2 separate regions of the Homo sapiens genome follow, and region 1 is linked to region 2. A link means that fine-mapping ties the variant in region 2 to the expression of a gene that starts in the linked region. Tissue or cell type: minor salivary gland. Region 2 holds a variant in brackets; the other region holds the start of a gene. All regions are shown on one strand. Distances are from middle to middle.

Region 1 (8,000 bases), 830 kb after region 2:
GTCTTATCAATAATGTGAATCAGAATGCCACTTAGATGCACTAAATAGAAAATAAGAATGAAAAGCACATTGATTTGAATGAAAAACATATTAATCTATCCTGTAAACAACTCTAAAAAACAAAAGTCACCCAAAATTCTACTGGCCAGCACCACTTGCCCTGCTCCATTTACCAATGTTATCTCAATATTTAATCATTTTTGCAGACACGGGTCTCAATTTATAAAAAGAAATGACATCACTATTTTAGAGAACCATTAAGGGATAAGAAGAGAATCTTTTCATACATGAATAATCACACCCAAACTCATTTTACAAATAGATTTTCTTAAAATAAGAATACTTATTCAGGCCGGGCCCCCGTGGCTCACACCTGTAATCCCAGCATTTTGCAAGGCTGAGGTGGGGGATTCCTCCCTGACCTCAGGAGTTCAAGACCAGCCTGGGTAACATAGAGAGACCTGCATCTCTACAAAAAAAAAAAAAAAAAATTAAAATTAGTCAGGCATGGTGGCACGTGCTTGTAGTTCCAGCTACTTGGGAGGCTGAGGCAAGAGGATTGCTTGAGCCCAGGAATTTGAGGCTGCCGTGAGCTATGATTGTGTCACTGCACCCCAGCCTGGGTGGCAGAGCAAGACCCTGTCTCAAGAAACAAAAAAGCAAAAAAAGAATACTTTTCAGGATATAGCAGTAAGTTCCCAAGCCAGTAAATAACTTAACTGGTACTGATATTAACACTACTTTTTCTATTGTTTCTCATAGCTATCAAAAGCTACTAAAAGGTTTACATATATTGGTAATAAGCAAAATGACCTCTGAATGAAATTAAGAGGGTAGGATCTAGACACACTGGTGGGTCTTAAGGTTTCTCAGCATTGTCTGGCCATGCTGAATTTTTGCTTTAGTATCTCAGATGCGGTGCAGAAAAATGGAAGGTCCACACTTTTACTCCTCTCCATCAGCAGGAGCATCTGAACACAGGGCTTTATACTAGATATGACCAACTGCATTCAAAATTTTCATGAACAGTAACCAGTAAAAGCATTACCCACAAAAAAATCCCCTTACATTCAAAGAATGCCAGATGAAGAATAAAATGAACAGCTGGGCGCGGCAGCGCTTGCTTGTAATCCCAGCTATGCAGAAGGCTGAGGCAGGAGAAACGCTTGAACCTAGAAGGCAGAGGTTGCAGTGAGCGGAGATCGCTCCACTGCACTTCAGCCTGGGTGACAGAGCAGGACTCCATCTCAAAAAAAAAAAAAAAAGAGTAAATTGAAAAGTAGAGCTGGTATGTTTTTCATCCAATTACTGGGTTTTTATCAGGCCCATGGCCTAATCTGTAAATTTTAGGGCCTAATTAATATTTATTTTTCACGGCCCTTACCAAAGACAGCCAAATAAAGTTTGGCAGTTTGGGTGGATACATACTAGGCTCTTACGAAAAAATACTAAATGAGGTGATTTCTTTTTTGCCTTTTCAATAACAAATATATTTCAGCAGAAAGACTGCATTTATCACATTAACTAATAGTTTTCTCTGGAAATTGAGTCCGCACTTTAAGGAGTCCAACAACTTAAATATACTTAATAAAGCTCCTGTGCTGAAATTCCCATTTACTGTAAATAAGTAAAAGAACAATGTGCCCTTCCTCTGCAACTCCCTCAAACCAAACATCCTCCTATACTTTTCTCAATCTACTGCCTGGAGAAGCACAGCTCACCTTTAGAGCACACCCCTCATTAAGGTCATTCCCACTCAGATCATTTTGGAGGGAAGAATTAAAGCATCCAAGTAGCTAAATCCCGGCTGCTGCTGATTTGTATGCTCCAAGGGAGGAGATGGCTTAAAAGCAGGAGTGTCAAAGGAAAATAAAATGGAAAATTAAAGTAGTTCAATTGCCATGAAAAACTATTTAAAGTGTGGCATTTTCTCCTTTTCACCTTTGCAGAATTCATCTAGTTGAAAATACTTGGCTCATGCCTGTAATCCCAGCACTTTGGGAGGCCGAGGCAAGTGGATGACCTGAGGTCAGGAGTTCGAGATCAGCCTGGCCAACATGGTGAAACCCCATCTCTACTTAAAATACAAAAATTAGCTAGGCATGGTGGGCGCCTGTTATCCCAGCTACTCGGGAGGTTGAGGCAGGAGAATCACTTGAACCCGGGAGGCAGAGGTTGTAGTGAGCCGAGGTCATGACATTGCACTCCAGTCTGGACAACAAGAGCAAAAACTCCATCTCAAAAAAAAGAAAGAAAGAAAAATTTCTAAAGTGATGTAAACATTTTTTACAAGTCTGTAAAGTATTGACTGAAAACCAGTGTAGTACAAATGTATATAGAAGTGTTGGGTTGTAAAGGAGTGATGAGAGTGGAGGCTGACTGAAGAAACTCTTCAGGTGAGCTAAAAATAATAAAAACCCTTACTAGATCCAAAGAGTCGGGTTGCACTGCTACCCAAAGTTAAGAAAATGCCCCCGCCCCCCTTTTCTTAAGACAGACCAAGACTCTGTCTCCAAGGCTGAAGTGCAGTGTTGCCATCATGGCTCACTGCAGCCTCAACCTCCCAGGCTCAAGAGATCCTCCCACCTCAGCCTCCTCAGCAGCTGAAAATGGCCTTGGTGGCTCCTCTCTCCTTAAGATCTTAGGATTTGTACCAACTCATCAGTAGTTTTACAATCTGCACAGTACTTGTACATCTCATTTCATCCCCACACCAACCCTACCAGGCAAGGATCACTGGCCTCATTTAACAAGATAAAGATGAGGATACTCCTAGTTTTGCTGAGTCCTTTAAGACGGCTCAGTTGAAAAAGTAATAGTGCCAGGGCTTAAACCCTCATCTCTAACACCAAAGCCTAAGCTCTTCCTGTTAACAGTACATAAAATTCAAACCCAAACCACAAAATTGCTGGGGAAAAAAAAAAAAACTAAAACTTCTTTAACCCACCAACTACACAGAGGATGATCTTCCGAAGTTCTCTTCCTTACAACTCATCACATCTTTTGAATGGTATTTTAATAACTAGCATTCTATTTATTTTCTATTCTTGGTCCATTGTACCACCTTACGAGAAGTTAAGAGTAATCTAAAATTTAAGGTAGGTCTCTAAACTATCAACAAAACACTATTAATGTACCTAAAATGAAAACTTGCGAATTCCAGGGCTAAATGATTCAAACAAATGTTAATAGAAAAGGAGGGCACCAATCTGACCATTAGCCAATTTAAAAATTTACGCATTACTTGTTATACATAATCAGGGCAACTTTAAGACGCCATTCCAGGCAGATTTGGGGTAGTAGGCGGCTGGCTTTTAGCTAACTCTGCTTAGCTGCGGGGTAAATGTCAAAGGTCAGCCCCATGGCGAATCTCCCTAAGCCCCCTGTCGCAACCGAAGCCGATGGAATCAACAAGACAAAGATGCTCCTGACCCACTGGCTAGAATCGTGAAGAAAACGCTAATCCATGTCAAATGCACATAAGGAAATTTTTCCATGCAGAGACCAGACAGGGGAAAAGGGGAAGGGAGAAGGAGAAAATACAGGGTTCGACCCGGGCCATCGGAAGACAACCAAGCGCTGACTTGGGGGTAAGCCCTGGACTAGGGGCCTGTAGACCAGGTTCGAGCGCTCACACTCGCTAACTGCGGAGCCTTGGCCAGCCTCAGTCTCCGAGTCTACAAAACAAGGATAATCATAAAGGGCTCCCACCCGCCTCACCGAGGGCTGTGAGGCTCTTCCGAGACAGAGGACATGGAGCCATTTCGTAAACCGGAGCGCACGGTACAGACAAGAAACTGTTATCCGGCCCAGCAGCTGCGAGACCCCCGAGCGGAATGCAAGTGGACCCCAGGCAAAGAGGACAGCAGGGGACGGAGCAGATCTGGCCAAGTTGTCCCGTCCCCGCCCAGAATCAGCCCCGCGGCCCCACAGAACCGCCTGCGTGTCACTTCCCCCCCACCCAACCCCGCCAGGGCCAGCCTCCGCTCCGACCTCCCCGCCTTCCGTCCCAGCCCCTCGAGCCCCAACTCCCCTCCCCGACGCGACCCTCAGACTCACGGCCTGAGGGGCTCCTCCGGCAAAACAGCGGCTGGCTCGGACCCTCCCTCAGAGCACACTAACCAGCAGCACCCGGGACCGCCAGCTACTCGCCGGATGTACGTCACACCCCTCCCCGGGACTTCCGGGCGCGTAATGGGCCCCGCCCCCTCACAGCGTTACGCCTCTCTGCCCCGGTGCCGTCCCACCAGCGACTCGGGCCGCGGAGGGGCGGGCATAAGGCGTGACAAAGCGCGCTCGGGGTCTGGCCCCGCCTCGGCCCCGCCTGCTCCCGTCTGGCTAGCTGACCGCGCGAGACGTGGCAGCGCCGGAACCCTGGGTCCGGGGCTGGGTCCTGGAGTCCCTGAGCGGCCTGGTACACTCGGGATCGCGGCTTCCCATTCCAGACGCACCAGGAAAGTCAGAAGTGGGTACCGACGGTGACATAGGTCCTGGGAAAGATGAGTTGACCTTGGGGCCCTCCACTTGAGGTGGATCCCTCCAAGCTTTTGCTTTTTTTCTTCCTTGCTTTTTTTTTTTTTTTTTTTTTTTTTGAGGCGGAGTCTCACTTTGTCGCCCAGGCTGGAGTGCAGTGGCGCGATCTCGGCTCACTGCAACCTCCACCTCCCGGATTCAAGCGATTCTCATACCTCGGCCTCCCGAGTAGCTGGAACTACAGGCGCATGTCACCACACCTGGCTAATTTTTTTGTATTTTTACAGAGACAGGTTTCACCGTGTTGGCCAGGCTGGTCTCGAACTTCTGACCTCAAGTGATCCGCTGGCCTCGGCCTTCCAAAATGCTGGGATGAGAGGCGTGAGCCACCGCGCCCAGCTGCTTTTGCTTTGAGTCGCACTTCCTTGCCCTGGGGTGGCCTATGTTTTAGAAAAACAGAAAAACAGCTAATATTTATTGTGCACTTATGTTCCAGGCAGAGCACTGGGTACTTTGCACGCTTTGTCTAATTTCACCGTCATTGGAGTCCTGTGACTCCAGATGCTAGTATTATCCTTATTGACAAATGAGAGAGCAATGTTCAGAATAACCTACCATGCCCAAGTTCACACAGCTAAGTGGCAAAGCAACGTGTTCACCCCAGTATATTTCGCATGCATTTTCTCATTTAATTCTCAGGACAGTCCCACGAGATTGGTACTATTATTACTCTCATTTTACAAATAAAACAGTCTAATGGAAAGATGAATGACGTCTGTGGGTTCATGAAGATCTCAATTCTCCTTTAGTAAAATTTAAATTTAACATAATCCCAATAAAAGTACTAATAGGATTAATAGGTCGTGTGTGGTTTCGTTCTTTTTTTTTAATTACCCTATTTGTTCCTAAAATTCGTATAGAAAACCAAACAAAACTAGTCCAGAAACAGGCTTTCAAAATGAAGAACAAGGAGGTGGGAACTAACCCTGTTGGATATTAAAACATATTATAGAGCCTAAGTTATTAAAACTGGTGTGCGTGCACATGCACAAACACACACACACAAAAAACACAATGGAACAGAGCAAAGTACAGAAATGACTAAAGTACATGCAGAAATAAAACTAAAGTAGCACCTGGGACTCCAGCAATACTCAGGGAGCTGAGTGGGCAAGCTCACCACCCTCTACCCTCCGCTCATCCTGGGGTCTTAGATGTTGAATTTGAACCCTGTCCTGTCACAGAAAGGTGTCAGGCCACTTCTGAGGCTTCTCACCAGCTTTAGCTAAACCAGGGACAATGTGTCCATGGGGCTTGGAACCCCTTGTGCATCCTGGAGACACAGATGCAAGCCCAGTGCAAGCCAACACATTGGATTACTGGCTTTGTTGAGAGCCTGGCTGCACGAGGTGGAGGTGTCTGAACCACAGGATGGCTTGGGAGGCTGGGGAAGGAGGGAACATGCAGGCAGATTCTCAGAAAAGCCGCAAACTCTACTTACCTAAAGGCTTGAGCAAGTTGACGAATGCCCCAGACCACCATGTACCCACTGTAAAATGGGTGAAACAGGCATTGTTGTGCACATAGTTTTTCCAGAGTACTGTTTTCAATAAATGATTCTGTTATGTGTTGTTAAATAAATTAATAAATAATAAAAGGGGTTGAGACAATTGGGTAGTCAAAAAAACCTACAGGTTGAATCTCCAAAAGTTTATTACTCTAAACAAGTTTCAAGTGATGAAAAGATGTGTGTATTTTGAAATGACACTATAAAGGTACTAGAAAAACAGAAGAAAGCATGGATTCCTTATAATTTTGCAATGAGAAGACCTTTCTGGGTATGATTGAAAATCTAGACCGGGCGTGGTGACTCATGCCTGTAATCCCAGCGCTTTGGGAGGCTGAGACTGGCGAATCACAAGGTCAGGAGTTCGAGACCAGCCTGGCCAACATGGTAAAACCCCATCTCTACTACAAATACAAAAAATTAGCCAGGCGTAGTGGCAGGCGCCTGTAATCCCAGCTACTTGGGAGGCTGAGGCAGGCGAATCGCTTGAACCCCTGCGGCAGAGGTTGCAGTGAGCCGAGATCACACCACTGCACTCCAACCCCGGGCAACAGACTGAGACTCCATCTCAAAAAAAAAAAAAAAAAAGAAAGAAAAGAAAATGTAGATGCCATAAAAGAAAAGATTGACAAATTTAACTACATAAAAATTAAAAACTTATATGGCATAACAACAATCATGACACCATAAGCAAACTCAGACAAATGACAAGTTGAGAAAAATAATCACATCATAGGCAAGTAAGAAGTATGAAAAAGACTAACAACACAATAGGAAAATAGGCAACAGTTCAGAACAGATAATTCATAGGAAAGGAAATAAAAATGACTTTTCTTTTTTTTTTTTTTTTCTGAGACCTAGTCTCACTCTGTCACCCAGGCTGGAGTACAGTGGCGGTCTCGGCTCACTGCAACCTCTGCCTCCAGGATTCAAGCGATTCTCCTGCCTCAGCCTCCTGCATAGTTGGGATTACAGGCATGAGCCACCGAGCCCGGCTAATCTTTGTATTTTTAGTAGACATGGTCTTTGTATTTTTAGTAGAGATGAGGTCTCACCTTGTTGGCCAGGCTGGTCTCAAACTCCTAACCTCCAGTGATCCGCCCGCCTAGGCCTCCCAAAGTGCTGGGATTACAGGCATGAGCCACTGCGCCTGGCCCAAAAATGACTCAAGCATAATAAAATAGTAATAGAAATATAGATACTATAGAAAATATAAATATAGATATTATAGAATAATAGATATAGAAAATATATAAATCCATTTATTTGTCTATGTATCTCTGTATAGTTATATCTATACTGAAATAGAAATAGATTTTAAAAAATAAAAGATAAATTTGAAACTTACTGAGATACCATTTTCACCTGTCAGATTGGCAAAAGTTCACCAGTTTATTGGTGGGAAGGCTGTTTCAGATAGAGAAGTCAGACTGGGCATGGTGGCTTATGCCTGTAATCCCAACACTGGGAGACCGAGGCAGGAGGGTCGCTTGAGCCCAGGAGGTTGAGGGTACAGTGAGCCATGATTGCACTCCAGCCTAGGCAACAGAGCGAGACCTTGTCTCTAAATTAATTAATTAATTAACTAAATCAAATACAGAAGTCAAGAAAGGCCCCACCCAGGTGCTATTTGGATAAGAACATGAAGGACATTACATGGCTGTCAGGGTAGACTGTTCCAGGCTGACAGCAGAGGCCCTAAGGCAGGAGTGTGCCTGGCAGTTTCCAGGAACATCTGGGAGGCCAGTGTGACCAGGCAAGGTGAGCAACAGAAGGAGTGGTAGGAAATGGGGTGAGGTGTTTGTGGTCAGAACTGTGGAGGTTCTGGGGTTCTACCTAACTTGCAGGTTAACAGGTTAGCCTGACACAGTCTCAGATGCTGGCAGTCACAGGACTCCTGGATCAGAGACAAACTATGTTATTACTTCCGGCATAGCGAGCAGCATGAACTTCCTGTTTG
Region 2 (8,000 bases):
GCCGTTCTCTGTGTCTGCAGCCTGCTTTTTGATTTGAGCTTCTAAGCTTTATTTGGATTTAGCTTGGTTGTCCTGAAACGTTGGGGTTTTTGGATCAATGTCTGTGTGCTGAGCTGCACCTTGACTTAGAAGGCAGGATAGCTGTGGAGTTATGGAGAGCTGCCTTTTCTAGAAGCTTCTCCTGTCCAGCGGGAAAACCCCAACAGCTCTACTTGGATCTGCCTTCTGCAGAGCAGGGGACCAGTCTTTCTTAAGGGGCAGGGATGATTGTATGGAGGAGCCTTAGACTTGCAGGTATAAAACCTCACTCCCCCAGCTGTGTGCTTTGAACTAATCACTTAGCTTCTTGGACCATCAGTTTCTGTGTCTGTAAAATGGGGATTAAGAACATCTCCCAGACAGTTTTGAAGGTTAAATGACATACTGGATCTTGATATACTGATATACTGTAAGCCACAAGAGAATTATATAGTATTATTCCAGGATCCAGCATTGTTTGAATTCCTCCTTTGTGTCAAGCAACTGGGTGAGTTCCAAAGGTCTATTCAATATGTTTTCTTTCCCTGGGGAACTCACGCAGTATCATAGGAGATGGACAGCTTGGTAAAAGGATAATCATGATGTGTGAGGAGTGTGGTCGTTGGGGCGTGTCCAAAATGCTGGAGTAGCAATGTACCTTTTTTAAAATTAAAATTAAAAAAAATTTTTTGAGATGGAGTCTTGCTGCATTGCCCAGGCTGGAGTGCGATGGCGCGATCTTGGCTGACTGCAATCTTCTCTACCTCCTGGGTTCACGCGATTCTCATATCTCAGTCTCCTGAGTAGCTGGGATTACAGGCATGCACCACCATGCCCAGCTAATTTTTGTATTTTTAGTAGAGACCGGGTTTTACCATGTTGGCCAGGCTGGTCTTGAACTCCTGACCTCAGGTAATCCACTCGCCTCGGCCTCTCAAAGTTCTGGGGTTACAGGCATGAGCCATTGCTCCCGGCCTTAAAATTAAAATTAAAAAATATTTTAGAGGTGCGATATCACTATGTTGCTCAGGCTGGTCTTGAACTTTTGGGCCTAAGCAATCCTCCTGCCTCGGCCTCCCAAAGTGCCAGGATTACAGGCATGAGCCACTGTGCCAGCTAGCAATGTAGCTTTTATTGTATGATCTTGCGCTTGCTCCTCCATTCTCCACGCAGCAGACACACAACTCTCATCATGGTTGTAATCAGTAAAGCCGTCCCAAGGCTCGCTGTGCTGTGGGATCCCGCTTGTATTTGTTTATGTGGCTCATCAGGCCCTGTGTGGTTGAGCTCTGGACAGTCTTTCCAGGCACACCGTCTGCTTGTTCATCACAAAAACCACCCTCCCTCCCCTTCGGACTTCACACATGCCCTTGCTTGTGCCTGGGCATGCTCTCCAACTTCGCCTCTCCAGGAAGCCTTCTCTCCCATGCTTGCAACGTGGCTGTCTCTCCCTGCAGACCCAGGGCACTATGATGGCAAGGGCTGCTGATGAATGCCACCAGCCAGAATAGGGCATGGCTTGTCTCTCCTCCCAGGGCCATGTTTTTGGCAATTTTATTTCCTTTAAAAAATATATATACATATTTCTTTCTTTCTTTTTTTTTTGGAGACTGGATCTAAGTCTGTCACCCAGGCTGGGGTACAGTGGCAGGATCATAGCACCCTGCAACCTCTGCTTCCCCAGCTCAGGCAATCCTCCCGCCTCAGTCTCCCGAGTAGCTGGGACTACAGGGGCGTATCACCACGCCTGGCTAATTTTTGTATTTTTTTAGAGACGAGGTTTTGCCAAGTTTCCCAGGCTGCTCTCGAACTCCTGGCCCCAAGCAATCTGCCTGCCTTAGCCTCCCAAAGTGTTGGGATTACAGGTGTGGGCCACTGCTCCTGGCCAATTGTTAATTTTTTTTTTTTTTAGAGACAGTCTCACTCTGTCACTTAGGCTGGAGTACAGTGGTTCAATCATGGCTCAATGCAGCCTCAACCTCTTGGGCCCAAGTGATCCTCTTGCCTCAGCCTCCCGAGTAGCTGAGACTACAGGTGTGCATCACCATGCTGGGCTAATTTTTATTTTTTGTAGAGACAGGGTTGTTGCCCAGGCTAATCTCGAACTCCTGGGCTCAAATGATCCTGCTGCCTTGGCCTTGCAAAGTTCTAGAATTACAGGTGTCAGCCACCATGCCTGGCCTCTTCTGGCAATTTCTATTCTGGCTCTTGGTGGTTCCTGATTGCCCTTCTTTGAGCTGCTTTATTGTAAAGGGAAAAAGGTGGTAGGGCTAGTGGTTAGGAGTGGGGGCAAGGATCATCCTTGGGCGCAGAGAGTGTTGGCAGACATTTTGGGAGGCCTAGGTGGGTGGATCACTTGAGGTCAGGAGTTTGAGACCAGCCTGGCCAACATGGTGAAACCCTGTCTCTACTAAAAATACAAAAATTAGCAGGGCGTGGTGGCGCACGCCTGTAATCCCAGCCACTCAGGAGGCTGAGGCAGGAGAATTGCTTGAACCTGGGAGGTGGAGGTTGCAGTGAGCCAAGATTCTGCCACTGCATTCCAGCCTGGGTGACAGAGATAGACTATGAAAAAAAAACCAACCCCAAAAACAAACAAACAAACAAACAAACAAACAAACAAAGGAAAAAACACCAGTGTTAAGGTCTTTTCAGCCTTGTGGGGCTGTAAATCTGTCTCTCTATCCAGTGGGAGCCTTCTGTGTGCAAGGCTCCATGTGAGGCACTGGGGAGGTCAGGGTGACACGCATGGAAAGCTGGGATCCAGACCAGACCCTGCCTAGGGGTCAGTGCTGAAGGAGTGGTGATATCCAGCCTGAAGGACTTGGACATCTTCAGGAGGAAGTGACAGTTGATTTGAACCTTGAAGGTTAGGTGAGCTGGGAAGAAAAGGAAGGGCATTTCAGGTAGAGGTGACAGCAGAAGGAGGAGAGCCTGGAGCACCTACTAGGAATGGTAGAGGTGGTTTGGCCGGAGTTCAGAGAGCACAGAGCCACACCTGCAGAGGGTAGGTGCCTTGGCAGTGGGGAGGCATTGCAAGGCTTTGGGCAGAGGCATGACTTGATTAGGGTTGCACTTTAAGAGGCTGATGCTGCAGTGGTGTAGAAGATGGGTTGGAAGGAAGAGATTGAAGATAAACTGTTACAGTGGATCATCAGCAATCCAGGCACACAGAGCAGCAGAAAGAGTGGATGGTGAAACAAAAGAACCTTCCTCGGTGGACTCTACAGGGATAGTGCCATCAGGACAGGTGTCTAGCTCAATTCTAGGCACCTAGCTGGTGCCCAGTGAATCCTTTTTTGGGAGAATAAATGCGAAGATGCCATGAAGGACAAACAATTAGTGATAGCCAGTGACAACCCAGGGTGCCTAAGGTTAGGAGCCTGGGCAGCTTGAGGAGAACGGGGAACTCAGGAAGAGGAGCAGGTTGGGTCAGGCCTGGTGAAGGGTGGGAGTAGTTTGACTCGGAGGTGCAGGGCCCATGGCCTGGCACACAGGCCCGGCACATGGGTATGGGAGCCCAGGGGCTGTCTCCATTCATTGAGGCTGGGTTTAAGGTTTCTGTGCTCTGGGCCTGCCACCCTGTGTTCTCAGAAGGGTCCTAGCCCTTTGGCCGCCATTTCTGTCTTTCTAGAAGTCTTGCCCATGGACACCTGCCAGTACTACTGTCTCATGTTAATAATA[A/T]TAGCTGATGTTTATTGAGCAGTTACTGTGTTCTAAGTGCTTGTGTCTCATTTGAACTTGTCCTATATGTTAGGTCCTATCTATCATCTCAGTTTTTCAGTTGAGGAAACTGAAATTCACACAGCTGTTAAGCTCTGGGGCTAGGATTGAACCCAGTTGGCTGGCTCCAGAGCCCTTGTTCGTAGCCTCTCTGTCATTCCCATCCCAGTGAGAGTGAGCCAGCCAATTCTCAGAGAGAGAAGGAGGCTTGAGGTGTTCCTGATACTGGAGGAAACCTACCTCCATCAAGTACTTGGGGGTTGAAGAGCAGCTTCCATGTCATATTTGAGGGTTGGAAAGGATCTTAGAGATATCGGGTTCATTTTACAGGCCAGGAACTAGGGCTCAGAGCATTTGCAAGCCTGTTCTGGGTGACATGGATGACAGCAGTTGAATGACCTTCCGCCATGCGATGTGCCAGCGTGCGTGTTCCTGTGCCTGTGGGAGCTGGCTATCTCAGCGGGTGGGTGCCTCACCTTGCCCTGTCCTCCCCCTCGACCTCACTCTCCTTCCTTCTCATCCCCCTCCAGATTGACAAGTATCTCTATGCCATGCGGCTCTCCGATGAAACTCTCATAGATATCATGACTCGCTTCAGGAAGGAGATGAAGAATGGCCTCTCCCGGGATTTTAATCCAACAGCCACAGTCAAGATGTTGCCAACATTCGTAAGGTCCATTCCTGATGGCTCTGGTAAGTCTGTCACCCAGAGATTGAACCCTGAGGGCTAAATGTTCTGTGAAATCTTCCTTCTAACTTCATTTGTTCATACATTTGCTCATTCATTCATTCACCATTCCATCAATCTGCTCTCCCATCCATCCATCCATCCATCCGCTGATCCATCTGCTGATCCATCCATCCATCCATCCATCCGCTGATCCATCCATCCAATATGTGTCTACTGAGACCTTATGCCAGTCACTGGGGATACCATGGTTGGGCAAGGCTGACCTGCTGTCATTGACTTTACTGTCTAGTGGCTTGTGATACTTTAGAAAGTGTAGTGTTTATGGGTCTCGCAGATACTGTGTGGGTTGCTCTTATGTCTTCAGAACATGAAGAACTCCAGAACAAATGAAGGGTTCATTTTAGGGAAATCTCTCCATCAGGGAATCAAAGCTTCCCTCTCTTCTTATCCCAGATAATAGCAATCCTAATGGACAGGTGGGTCTCAGACTTAAAGGCAGAGATTCCAGACCCCCTTTGGACAGATTTCACAGATGCAGAATTGAGGCAGCCCCCAAAACAAAGAAATACAGAGGGGAGGTAGAATTGAAAGAAAAATTGTATCCTTTCACTCTGCATCCTGTGGCTCATACCCTGCAGTGGGGCGTTGGGGGAGGGCCCCCTGAGGATTGTCTGTTTCTCCTCCCCAGAGGAGTGGTATCAGCCCCTGCACCTGGCTGAGCGGAGACTGAGAAGTCGCAGTCTGGCCTGCTCAGTGGAAGCTGTTCTTCCCGGCAGACCCGCAGTTACTAGTTTGTGGAGGTGAATGCTGTGCTTGCTCCAGCGTGGCGCCCTCACAGGAATCCCCTGTTAGCTGTGTTCTGTGCTCTAGGGTGGGGCTCACCTGCTGTAGGCAGCAGAGGGAGGGAGAGCAGGAGGAAGTCAGGTTTCCCTTGGGGTTGTGAGTACACGACCAGTGAGTACAGCTTTCACACACCCCTGCGATTTCTTCCCTGCTCTCGAGGCTCTTATTTAAAGGAGTGATTTGGGGCATCTTGTATGCAGCCTGCAAAATGGACGCCAGGAAACTGCAGCTGTTGCAACTGATGTTCTTGAAAGATGGGCAAGTGGGAGTAGGCTGGTTGCAGCAGGAAAAGACCTCTGCTCTCTGCCTGCAGTCATCCTGAATGAGATTTGGACGCTGATAAAGAGGCCTTGTGCTGTTCACTGTGGCCACGGGTGGGGTCTACTTCATGCTCACATATTAGCATGTATATCTCTGATGTAAGCCTACTCCACCTCCACCCTTTTGTTTAGGTGTTGATTACTAGCACCTACTTCTAGCTTTTTAAGAACTACTGAAGAGATTCTGGCCATCAGAGTGAATAGACTGTGGTCTACCCTGGGTGTGTTCGCTTGTCTCTGGCTGGAGAAGAAAGAACTTTATATATAGTTCACTCTTGCTTTTTCCCAGCCATGGATGTCACCTACAGCCAGGAGCACTGGAACCTTTCCAGGATGAGGAGAGCTATGTAGCAGAGGCATGGCTCTGACTGCTTCCAGCTGAGAGAAGAGGAAGGAGCGGGGAGGGGAGGGGGTATGGGCAGCACCCAGGAGAGCACCTGCTTTGGCTTTGCTTGGGAGAGCTCAGAAGGCTACCTGATCCCTGCGAGGCACCTGGCCCTGTGTGACTGGCTCAGGGCAGACACAGGGGAGGAGACACTTTGCCTCCTACCCACTGGGCCCTGCTCTCAAGCCAGCTGTGTCCCAGGGACCTATGTCAGCAGGGGTGCTCTCCCTCTCCTTCACAAACTGTTTCCAGGATTGAGAGTCTCAAGGTGTGATCCAAGTGCAGTAGAAATCCAGCCATTTGCCATATTGGCTACTCCTCCAAACAAGGCTTAGAACTCATACTCATTTGTGAAATGTATTTTTCACCCCCTTTTAGAGATTCATAGAAACGGCACCCCCCCATTCCAAATATTTATGGGTGGGTTCAGTTCATGTGCCCCAGAGCCCACACTTCGCTTGCAATGGTCCCTACAGCCCCGCAAAGACATTGCTGTTGATGCTAAGGACTTGGATACCCAACCCCCAGTCCACTTCCTGCCCCTTCGTGTTGTGCCGGGCTTCTGTCTTCACCTCCCCCTGCCTCTTGGCTCCTTTATCATCCAAGAATCAGGAGATCCCTGCAGTAATCAGAATCTGGGTCTCTTAATAGTAAATCCATAGTGCTGTTCCCTTTTTGAAATGTTAATCACTGCTTCAACTGTAGTAATTAGTGACAGAATTAGTGGTAATCCCAAACCACGGAGGGATAAATTGGCGCTCACCATGGTGGAGCAATGCCTAAGTGGTGATGTGATTTCCAAGGCAAAGGAAGGAAACAAGCCTTTCCTTTCTTGCTGACCTTGACCCTGGTCGACTAGACACAGAGTTTTGGAACTCAACTGACTTTCCAGAAGCATTTCTGAAAACATATCTGATACATACATTCTGATACCTATCAGCCCATTTTTAATTAGTTTCTTTCTTTTTTGGTCATTTTTTTTTTAATGGGCAGTGAGGTTTTTGTTTTTGGTATTTTGTAGAGATAGGGTTTTGCCATGTTGCCCAGACTGGTCTTGAACTCCTAGGCTCAGGCGATCCTCCCACCTCCCAAAGTGCTGGGATTACAGGCGTGAGCCACCTCACCTGGCCTGTTTTTATTTTTATTTTTTAGTTGTTCTTCAATAATCTGTATATCATTAAAAAAACCCCAAAAACCTAAAGTGGCTTTTTGCTGCTGCATATCATTTTTGAGGTAGTGGATGAATGAATAATAAAGAAGGAAAATATTGAAGCCTCTTAACATTGGTGATTTGGCTAAATAGAATTCCCTCTTCAAAGCTACTGTAGGGAGCAAGGGAAAACGTCCCCTTTGCCCTCTGAATGTTGGCTGAAAAATCAGCTCACAAAAGGCAGATTAATAGGAGAAAGGGCATACACATTTATTAACATGCATGTGGGAGAATCACAGACTGATTACTCAAGTATCCCGGTGGGGCCCAGATACTTACATTTCCTCTTTTCTTTTCCTTTTTTTTTTTGAGATGGAGTCTTGCTCTGTTGCCCAGGCTGGAGTGCAGTGGCACGATGGTTCAAGCGATCCTCCTGCCTTAGCACCCCCTACGTAGCTGGGATTATAGGCACCTGCCACCATGCCCAGCTAATTTTTGTATTTTTAGTAGAGACGGGGTTTTGCCATGTTGGCCAAGCTGGTCTCGAACTCCTGACCTCAGGTGATCCACCCGCCTCGGCCTCCCAAAGTGCTGGGATTACAAGTGTGAGCTACTGCGCCCGGCCACACATTTCCTCTTTTCAGAGGGGAGGCAGGAGACAGGGAACAGTAAATGATTACTAGGGAGAATGAAGATATCAGGGAACAGAGATTAACCAGTACCGGTTCTCTTTGGAAATTGAATAGGAGACAGATTTTTTTTTTTTTTTTAAGACAGTCTCGCTCTGTCGCCCAGGTTGCAGTGCAGTGGCATGATCTCGGCTCACTGCAACCTCCGCCTCCCGGGTTCAAGCAATTCTCCGGCTTCAAC

The links. PIP is the estimated chance that this variant, and not a neighbour inherited with it, causes the effect.
Region 1: SAR1A starts here. The variant in region 2 is fine-mapped to the expression of SAR1A in minor salivary gland (GTEx, PIP above 0.99).

What each region holds. Positions count from the first base shown.
Region 1 is chr10:70,166,354-70,174,353 of GRCh38, forward strand. SAR1A (secretion associated Ras related GTPase 1A) reads right to left here and starts at 4,161. Exons shown (of 7, transcript NM_020150.5): 1 at 4,060-4,161. RefSeq lists enhancers at 3,127-3,785, 3,786-4,442, 4,576-4,655 and a silencer at 4,086-4,445.
Region 2 is chr10:69,339,556-69,347,555 of GRCh38, forward strand. It overlaps HK1 (hexokinase 1), which reads left to right. Exons shown (of 18, transcript NM_000188.3): 2 at 4,272-4,434. Among named protein-coding and RNA genes, the nearest start is that of HK1, 25 kb to the left of the region's middle. RefSeq lists enhancers at 1-273, 3,862-4,715 and a silencer at 5,320-5,449. The variant A/T (reference allele first, on the strand shown) is at 3,703.